2 linked regions of the Homo sapiens genome follow. The protein of the gene in region 1 interacts with the protein of each later gene in a pairwise test. Each region holds a gene or a part of one and is shown on either strand. Other genes may lie near its edges.

Evidence for each region.
Region 2: the proteins of UBASH3A (region 1) and FGFR1OP2 interact in binary tests that used the Homo sapiens proteins (3 or more experiments, as listed by UniProt).

The regions. Positions count from the first base shown.
Region 1 is NC_000021.9:42,444,334-42,448,922, forward strand, and holds the end of UBASH3A (ubiquitin-associated and SH3 domain-containing protein A), read left to right. Parts: intron 1-200; coding exon 201-310; coding exon of another isoform or gene 311-500; intron 501-2,723; coding exon 2,724-2,861; 3' UTR 2,862-3,351; downstream 3,352-4,589. UniProt on the Homo sapiens protein: Interferes with CBL-mediated down-regulation and degradation of receptor-type tyrosine kinases. Promotes accumulation of activated target receptors, such as T-cell receptors, EGFR and PDGFRB, on the cell surface.
Region 2 is NC_000012.12:26,944,466-26,949,412, reverse strand, and holds part of FGFR1OP2 (FGFR1 oncogene partner 2), read right to left. Parts: intron 1-4,947. UniProt on the Homo sapiens protein: May be involved in wound healing pathway.

The sequences.
Region 1 (4,589 bases):
CGTGCAGAGGAATCCATGAGCGAGGGTGGGACGCAGGCATCACTGAGCGGTTACCAGCCACACTACTTCTAGCCCGGGGGTCTCGCCAGGCTTCGGGGCACTCTGAGATAGCTCTGCCCCCCACCACTTTGGGGACCCCAGTCTAATAAAAGGTGCTCTCTGGGGCTGCTTTGACCTGGAGGTGTTCTTGTTTTCCACAGCGGGTGTCATCCTAATTGTGAGTCACGGCTCCACTCTGGACTCCTGCACGCGGCCACTGCTCGGGCTGCCGCCCCGGGAATGTGGGGATTTTGCCCAACTCGTGAGAAAGGTACGCGCCCACTCTTGGCTCTTTGGGCCACAAAATCAAGCATCCCGAAGACACAGGTTTATCTCATCCACTTCTCGGAATGAAAACAAGTGTCCGGCTGACCCAGGGCCACCAGGATCCACGTGCCCCCGGAGACTGTGCCCACCGGCTCTTATGCGAAGGGTGACTTCGGGCTGGGGCTGGTGGATAGGTCAGTCAACCTCATCATCATTGGCCACTTGCCAACTTTTTACCAGTCAGCTCATGCCATGACCCCTTGCAGCTCTCGTAGAAAAACAGACGGTCCAGGAAGGAGTAAGCAGTTTAGATGAGGAGGGAAGAAACGACTGTGGGACTCGATTCTGGCCTCTTCTGGGGACCTGGGGCAGGGCGGCTGATGGATGAAAAGGAGCCCCTTGATCCTCTTGCCCTTGGAGTCACCCAGCATGGAAGAAGCTTGAGCTGGTTGTAGCTGCCAGAGTGCTCAGGCTCTGGCAAGGGCCTTGTGAATGACAAACAGAGGATAACGCACACGTGACATCTTGGACAACCTTGATTATCACTCAGCAAAGCCAGAGGGTGATGTCCAGTCCATGGGTGAATTGAGGCAGGCAAACTCAGGAGTGCAGATCCCACCCCAGTCCCAGCCCTTCCCTGCAGATCTACTCAAGGCTGGACTCACCACAGTCCTGACCTTTTTATGAAATTCATCAGTCCACTGGTCAGTGCCCAGGCAGCACGTGCAGCATAGACAATGCCTGTCATCGGAGGTGCTTGAGGCCCTGACCTGGTTTCTTCACATAGCACTGCCACAGGACCACACTGGCCACAGCTTGTTTGCCATAAGTTGTGGGCAGCAGTGGGGGTTGCTGAGTCCCCCCAAGAGGTCAGGGGCTTCAGAGGAGCCCAACTCCCGGGCCCAGCCCAGTGACACCAGCCAGGTGCCTGCAGGAGGGCTTAGCTCTCTAGCTACGCCTGCCTCAGCAGCCAGATGAGAGGTTACGCACATGAAGAGCATGCCTGCCGTGGGTCATTGTCACTCAGCAATTAGGCATCAGACACCCGAATCTCCCTTTCTTGCTCCATTTTCCTCTGCACCTGAGTAGAAACATGCTTCCCCTGCAAAATGTCTCCAGGGTGGTGTGTCCCAATTATGATCCAGACATTTCCGAGCGCCCTGGATTCTTGAGCCACCAGGTGAGCATTGTCCAAATAGGGCAGCTCAACCCCCCTGGGCCACACTGGTAGAGGTCTGCATGGATTTTCCTGGGGACTGTCCGGGGCAGCCCCGGCACCACCTGCTCCCAAAATGTTGCTCTTGCTTCTGCAAATGGGTCTCCCACACATGCGCTCTGATGCATTCCTCCTGTCCCTGCCCCGCTTCCCACAGTCCCATATACACATACCAAGCCTCCAGCCCCAGGCGCTCCTGGGGGCCCACGTAACCAAGGGTGGCAGCACTGCACACACCAGCTGCTGACAGTTCCTCAAACCCATGAGCCTTTGTGGCCAAAGCTCCACCCACTCCTTGGACCCTTCACCCCCTTCCATAGATGCCAATCTTGAACTTCCAAACTCCTGGACTTTCTTATGCTGGTCACGTGGCGTTCACCCTGCCCCTACCCCAAAATAAGCTGGACTTGCTCATGCATATCAGAAAATACAAAGGGGGGGCTCTACCAAATGATGGGCCCCCAAATCAGGGCAGCTGGAAAGGGAGCACTCAGGACCCTCCCCGACCAGCCCATCACCGCCCCTCGCCCACAGCCTCTGCAAGCGTGAGGAAAGAATCACCCTAGGGTCAACACCAGCCTCACTCAGACCCCCCTGCCAGTTGGCATTTTTGTAAATTTCATCTGCCTGAGGAATTTCTAGACATTAGAAAGAGGAAGGAAAGAAAGAAAAGAAAAGACAAAAACAAAAAAGGCTTCACCACAAAGCTCTGTTCTCACACATCCATTTCACAGATGAAGGGATGGAGGTCTAAAGGTTCACTTTGTGCTTTTCTTTTGGGTCTGAAAACTCAATGTCTGTGTCTTTTTGTGATGCTGAATATGAGAATATGAGTCACTCCTTAAGTGGTGGATGGCAATCTCCACCTCAGCCTGCAGACCTTTGTGGTGGGGGCTGTTCTACTCATTGTAGGATGTACCACCTTGTAGGACCTCTACCTGCTAGGTGTCGGCAGCACCTCCATCCTCAGTTGTGACAATCAGAAATGTCTCCGGAATTACCCAGTGTCCCCTGGCTAGGGGACATCCCCCACGGGGCACCGCCAGGGCAGATGTTGGTGCCATTCAATGGTGGCAGTGCCAGCCTGGGCAGTCGCAGACCCTCCAAAGTAGAGGTGTGCCTGACAGTTGGCTTTGGAGCTAGTCTGAAATTGATGGACTTGCTATAAGATATTAACAAGTGATTTAAAACTCTGTTCCAGATCCCTTCCCTGGGCATGTGCTTCTGTGAAGAAAATAAAGAGGAAGGAAAATGGGAGTTGGTGAACCCACCGGTGAAGACCCTGACCCACGGGGCGAACGCAGCATTTAACTGGAGGAACTGGATCTCAGGCAACTGAGAGCCACGGTGATGTTGTCATAACCTCAGAGTGGAGAGGCAGAAACCATGTGCAGAGGCTGGGAGATGCTGCTGTTTCCAGAGGCGTCTTAGTCTCACCCAATGTGATTTGTAGAAGCACGAGACGCACTTTTATATCCCGGAATATTTCCCTCCGGCTTTCGCCTTTGTAACTCCCATCTGTGGACCCATCGTCCACCAGCCCAGCTGCGGGGAGCACAGGGCAGGTGGCTGGGTGAGGATGCCGCCCTGCAGCATGTACACCGAGTGTCTGCAGCTGGGGACACAACTGCCCGGGACTCTAACTTCCAGGAATTAAAGACTCACCACACACGAAGGATCTAACCACTTCATTTTCCATGGTCTAATCATTAAATTCCCAATCGTTTTTTCTTTTTCTGGGTCCATCACTCTTTAGCCATATCCACATGGGCTAAAACAGGTGTAATAGTCAATAAAATGGTCCCAGAAAACCATCGACCAGGTCAAAACTGGGTTGCTGCTCCGTGCTGTCAACATTCATGTTACTATGTCTCTGTGGTTGCTGTAACCAATGACCACAAACCTGGGGGTCATGGAAAGAACACAAACTTTACACACACACACACACACACACACACACAGGCACATACACACATGCACATATGCATACAAAGACAGGCACACACGAGCATGCACACACACAAACACGTGCACATACACATGCGCACACACATGCACACGCACATGCACACACACGCAGGTACACAAGCATGCAAACACACATACACATACAAACGCGTGCATGCATACATGCACACATGAGCACACAAACACATGCACACACTTGCACACATGCACACAAAGGCATACACATGCAATGCACACACACAAACACACATGCACACACAGGCACACACACGCTCACATGCACACACACACACGCTGACTCTCCTACGGTTCTGGAGGTTGGCATTTTCTCAGCAGGCTATGTTTCTTCTGGAGCCTCCAGGGGAGGATCCTTGCCTTTTCTCACTTTTAGAGGCCACCTGCATCCTCCCTCCTCAAGTACAGCGGCGTAGCAGCCTCCAAGCTCTCTCAGTCTCTGCCTTCACAGCCACATCGCCTTCTGCTTCTGACTCTCCTGCCTCCCTCCTACAAGGGCCCTTGTGTTGACACTGGGCCCACCCAATAACCCAGGATCAATTCTCATCTCAAGAGCCTTAACCACACATGCAAAGTCCCTTTTGCCACATAAAGTTGCATATTCCCAGGTCCCGGGGATTAGGACATGAACATCTTTGGGGGTTATCCTGTAGCCTGCCATAACATACCCCAATCCTTCCAAGCACAGCGGAGCTGCCCGTACAGGGCCTCGGACATAGGGATTTGAGACACTCCCCTTGCAGGCCTTTTTTGGCTTCTCCTATTCTTGTTTCTGATCACGTAGAGGAGAGAAGAGGACTTTGCCAGTGGGAGAAGTAGGCTCCCCCGATTTAATGGGGCCCCAAAAGAAGGGCCACGAGCAAAGTGGAGTCTGTCCATGATGGTGATGCTGAGGAAGCTGGTCCAGCAGGGGATGGGGTCTCCCCAGTGGGGAGTCTCATGCCCCAGCCCACAGGTCACACCTGCTCCCACAGCCCACACATGTGGTGCCTCATGCTGCAGGCAGAGATCCCAGCACGGTGTAGTGACAGTCCATCGGTCTTTCATCTCTTCTAGCCCCCTGATCCAGTGCAGGTGTTATTTC
Region 2 (4,947 bases), on another chromosome or scaffold:
CACCTGTAATCCCAGCACTTTGGGAGGCTGAGGTGGGTGGATCACCTGAGGTCAGGAGTTCGCGACCAGCCTAACATGATGAAACCCCATCTCTACTAAATACAAAAAAATTAGCAGGGCGTGGTGGTGCAAGCCTGTAATCTGAGCTACTTGGGAGGCCAAGACAGGAGAATCGCTTGTACCTGGGAGGTGGAGGTTGCAGTGAGCTGAGATCGCGCCATTGCACTCTAGCCTGGGCAACAAAAGCGAAACTCCATCTCAAAATGAAAAAGAAAAACTGTAATGGTGAATCAACGACTAAAACCATTCCTGAACAACTTTCTGAACATCTCTAAGAAGATTTTATGGAGTTGCCTCTCTCCATGGTTTAGAAATATTTATTATTATTTTTTTAAGTTTAGTTATTTTTAGAGGCGAGGTCTTGCCATCACCCAGGCTGGAACTCCTGGACTCCAAAGACCCTCCACTTCAGTCTCCTGAGTAGCTGAGACTATATAGGTGCATGCCACCATGCCAGGCAATATTCTTAAATATTCTAGTATGTTTACGTTATGAATACCTTAGAAGAGTCCCCTACCGAAAAGACACAATATTCACAATGACTAAAATACTGTATTTTGTGTATTCTCCCAAGCGCATTCTAACTTGTCATCCAATAATATAAAAACATATTTAACTTCAATAGTTGAAACTTATACATTTCGATGATGTAACACTTTGCTTCCTTCTAAGAAACCTTGTCTTCATCATTCCCAGTCCTCAGGAAACCCCAGGCAGGAGTTTCCAACAAGATCTAACTCCAGACACGTTGTAGTCACATTTCCAAAAACTAAAGACAAAGAGAAAATCTTGAAAGCAGCCAGAGAAAAATGACATATTACTCATAGAGAACAATTTGAATGACTGTAGGCTTCCCAACAGAAATGAAGGCCAGTAAAAAGTAGAACAACACTTTCAAAATGCTGAAAGAACAGACCTATCAACCCAAAATTCTATATCCAGCAAAAATATGTTTCATATATGAAGGTGAAATAAAAGTCATTCTCAGCTGAAGAGAAAGAAGAACTTATTTCCAGTAGACTTATTATAAAGAATACTCTTCAGTTAGAAGCAAAGTGTTATCAGAAGGAAACTTAGAACATCAGGAACAAAGGAAGACCAACTGAAATTGTAAATATCTGGGTAATTATTTTCCTCTTAGTTCTTTTAAATGTCTAATGTTTAAAAACAAGAATTATAACATTTATCTAATGAGATTTTTAATTTATGCAGGCAAATATATAACTACAAGAAAAAGGGAGGAGGCTAAAAAGGCCTATACATTGATCAGATTTCTACATTTCACTTGAAGTTGTAAAAATATCAATTTTAAGTAGACTTAAAAATTTACATATATTGTAATTCCTAATAAATCCCTAAAATAACTGCACAGAGATAATAGTCAAAACTACAATAGATTAATTGAAATGAATTAAAAAGTGTTCAATAACCCAAAAGACAGAGAAAAGGCAAAACAAAGGAATATCAAAGGAACAAAAAGAAAACAAATGATAAGATGGCAGAACTAAATCCAAACATGTTAATAATTTCACTAAATATAAATGTCCTCGACATTTATATTTAGATAAGATTAAGACAGATGATCAGAATTTTAAAAGAGGACCCAACTATGCATTGTTTATATAAAATTCACTTTAAATATGATATGGGTAGGTTAAAAGTAAAAGGACAGGCCGGGCATAGTGGCTCACACCTGTAATCCCAGCACCTTAAGAGGCCAAAATCGGAGGATTGCTTGAGCCCAGGAATTCAAGACCAGCCTGGGCAACATGGCAAAACCCTGTCTCTACAAAAAATTTAAAAATTAGCTGGGTGTGGTGGCACATGCCTGTAGTCCCAGCTACTCGGAACGGTGAGGGCGCAGTCAACCCTGGCTGTGCCACTGCACTCCTGCCTGGGTGACAAAGTGTGACCCTGCCTCCAAAAAAAAAGTTAAAAGGATGGAAAAGAGGATATACTGTACAAATATTAGTCAAAAGAAAACCAGAGGGCTAATAAGAACATGAAAACATGCTCAACATAACTAGCCATCACTGAAATGCAATTCAAAACCACAATGAGATATACCTACTAGGATGGCTATAATAGAAAAGATAGTAAGTGTTGGCTAGGATATAAAGAATGTGAAATGGTATAGCCACTTTGGAAAAGTCTGACAGTTCTTCAAAAGGTTAAACATGTGATCCAACAATTCCACTCCTAGGTACATACCAGGAAAATGAAAGTATGTCAATGCAAAAAACTGTACATGAATGTTCACAGCAATATTATTCAACTGATAAATGAGTAAATATGATGTGTTCATACAGTGGAATATCTGGCAAAAAAAAAAAAGTAGGGGGGAATGATGCCCTGAAACAGGCTACAACATGGATGAAAACTGAAAAAATTATGCTCAGTGAAAGAAGTCAGTCACAAAGACAATGTATCACGCCATTTATATAGTGTCCAAAAGAGGCAAATCCACAGAGGCTGAAAGTAGATTAGTGGATGTCTAGGACTGAGGGATTAGGAAAAGGAAGGAGGAATGGGAAGTGACTGTTAATGAACATACGGTTTCTTTTTGCGCGGGAAAAATGTTCTAAAATCAATTTTGTTGATGGTTACACAACTCTGAATATACTGAAAACCCTAAAAGTGTACACTTTAAATAGGTGAATAGTATGGTATGTGAATTACATATCTCAATAAAGGTGTTATATTTAAGAAAAGAGCTAGAGTGGCTATATAATATCAGACAAGGTCAGGCGCAGTGGCCCACGCCCATATAATCCCAGCACTTTGGGAGGCCAAGGCTGGCAGATCATGAAGCCAGGGGTTCCAGAACAGCCTGGGAAACATGGCCAAACCCCACCTCTACTAAAAATACAAAAAATTAACCGGGCGTGGTGGTACACACCTGCAGTCGCAGCTAGCTGGGAGGTGGAGGTAGGAGGATCACCTAAGCCCAGGAGGTTGAGGCTGCAGTGAGCCACAATCACGCCACTAAACTTTAGCCTGGGCAACAAAGTGAGACTTGCCTCAAAAAATAAATAAATATCAGACAAAGTAAACTTCAGAGAAAAGAAAATTACCAGGGACAGAGGAACATTACATGATGATAAAATGCCCAATCACCAAGAAGACATAAGCATCCTAAATGTATATACAACTATAATTAAAGAGCTTCAAAATACAAATGCACTAACTCAAACAACTGAAGGGATATATAGGCATATCCACCCTTACTGCTGAAAAATTAAACATTCCTTTCTCAGTAACTGGCAGACTTTGTACACAAAAATCAGCAATATAGGCAAAATGAACAGCATCCACTAACTGGCTTGAATTGATATTTATGAAATGCTACAACCAACAACAGCAGAGTACACATTCTTTTTAAGTGCTCAAGATATTCATGAGGATAGATCACATCCTGGATCACAAAACAAACCTTAACAAATTTAAGAGAACTGTAATCATACAAATTATGCTTTTTTTTTTTTTTTTTTGAGACGGAGTTTCACTCTTGTTGCCCAGGCTGGAGTGCGATGGCACATTCTCGGCTCACTGCAACCTCTGCCTCCTGGGTTCAAGCGGTTCTCCTGCCTCAGCCTCCCGAGTGGCTGGGATTACAGGCTCATGCCACCATGTCCGGCTAATTTTTGTATTTTTAGTAGAGATGCGGTTTCACCACGTTGGCCAGGCTGGTCCTGAACGCCTGACCTCAGGTGATCTGCCCGCCTAGGCCTCCCAAAGTGCTGGTATTACAGGCGTGAGCCACCACGCCTAGCCAGTACAAATTATGCTCTCTGATTATAATGAAATTAAACTAAAGTAAGTAATTAAGAGATAACAAGAAAAATCTCCAAACATCTGGAAGTTAAACAATGTACTTCTATATAATAAGTCAAAAAGGAAGTTTCTGGAAATTAGAAGATACTTTGATCTAAATAAACATGAAAATACAAAATATCAAAAATTTTGGCATGTATGTAAAACTCTACTTTGAAGCAAATTTATAGCATTAAATGTTTATATTAGAAAATTAGAAAGATCTCAAATCAATTATGTAAGCCTCAACCTTTAGGAACCTGGAGAAGAAGAGCAAAATAAACCTAAAGTAAATAGAAAGAAATAATAAAGAGTAGAAATCAACGAAATTGAGAACAAGAAAGCAACAGAGAAAACCTAATGAAATAAAAAGCCAGTCCTTGGAAAAAAATAAAAATTGAAAAACCTCCTGAAAAATTAACCAAGAAAAAAAGTCAGCAGACATAAATTACTAATGGAAAGAAGGGATATCAGGAAAGATGAGACATCACTACAGACCTCTAATTCCTTAAAAGGATAAGTGAACACAATAATAAATTCCATACACATGAATTGGATAATTTAAATGAAATGGACTAATTCCTCAAAAAACACAAACTACATAAAGTCACACAAGATGAAACAGACAACTATGAATAATCCTATTATAATTATTTTAAGAAACTGAATTTGTAATTAGAAATCTTCTGCAAAAAATCTCCAGACCTGGATGGCTTCAAGGACAAATTCTATCACACATTTAAAGAAGAAATAACACCAATTATTATACAATCTCTTAAAAAAATAATAGAAAAGGAAATACTTGTAATTTTAATCTCATAAACTGATGTCAGTATTACTGATACCAAAACCAAAGAGAATACAAGAAAACCACAGACTAATATCCTTCATTAACATAAATAAAAAATCCTTAAGGAAATATTAGTAACTCAAATTCAGCAACTCATAATGAGAGTAATATACCCTGACCAATGGGAGTTTATCCCAGATTCAAGGCTGTCTCCAATGTAATCCACTGAAGAAGAAAATCACTTATGCATACCAACTGGCATATTATTAAAAAATTCCGCATAC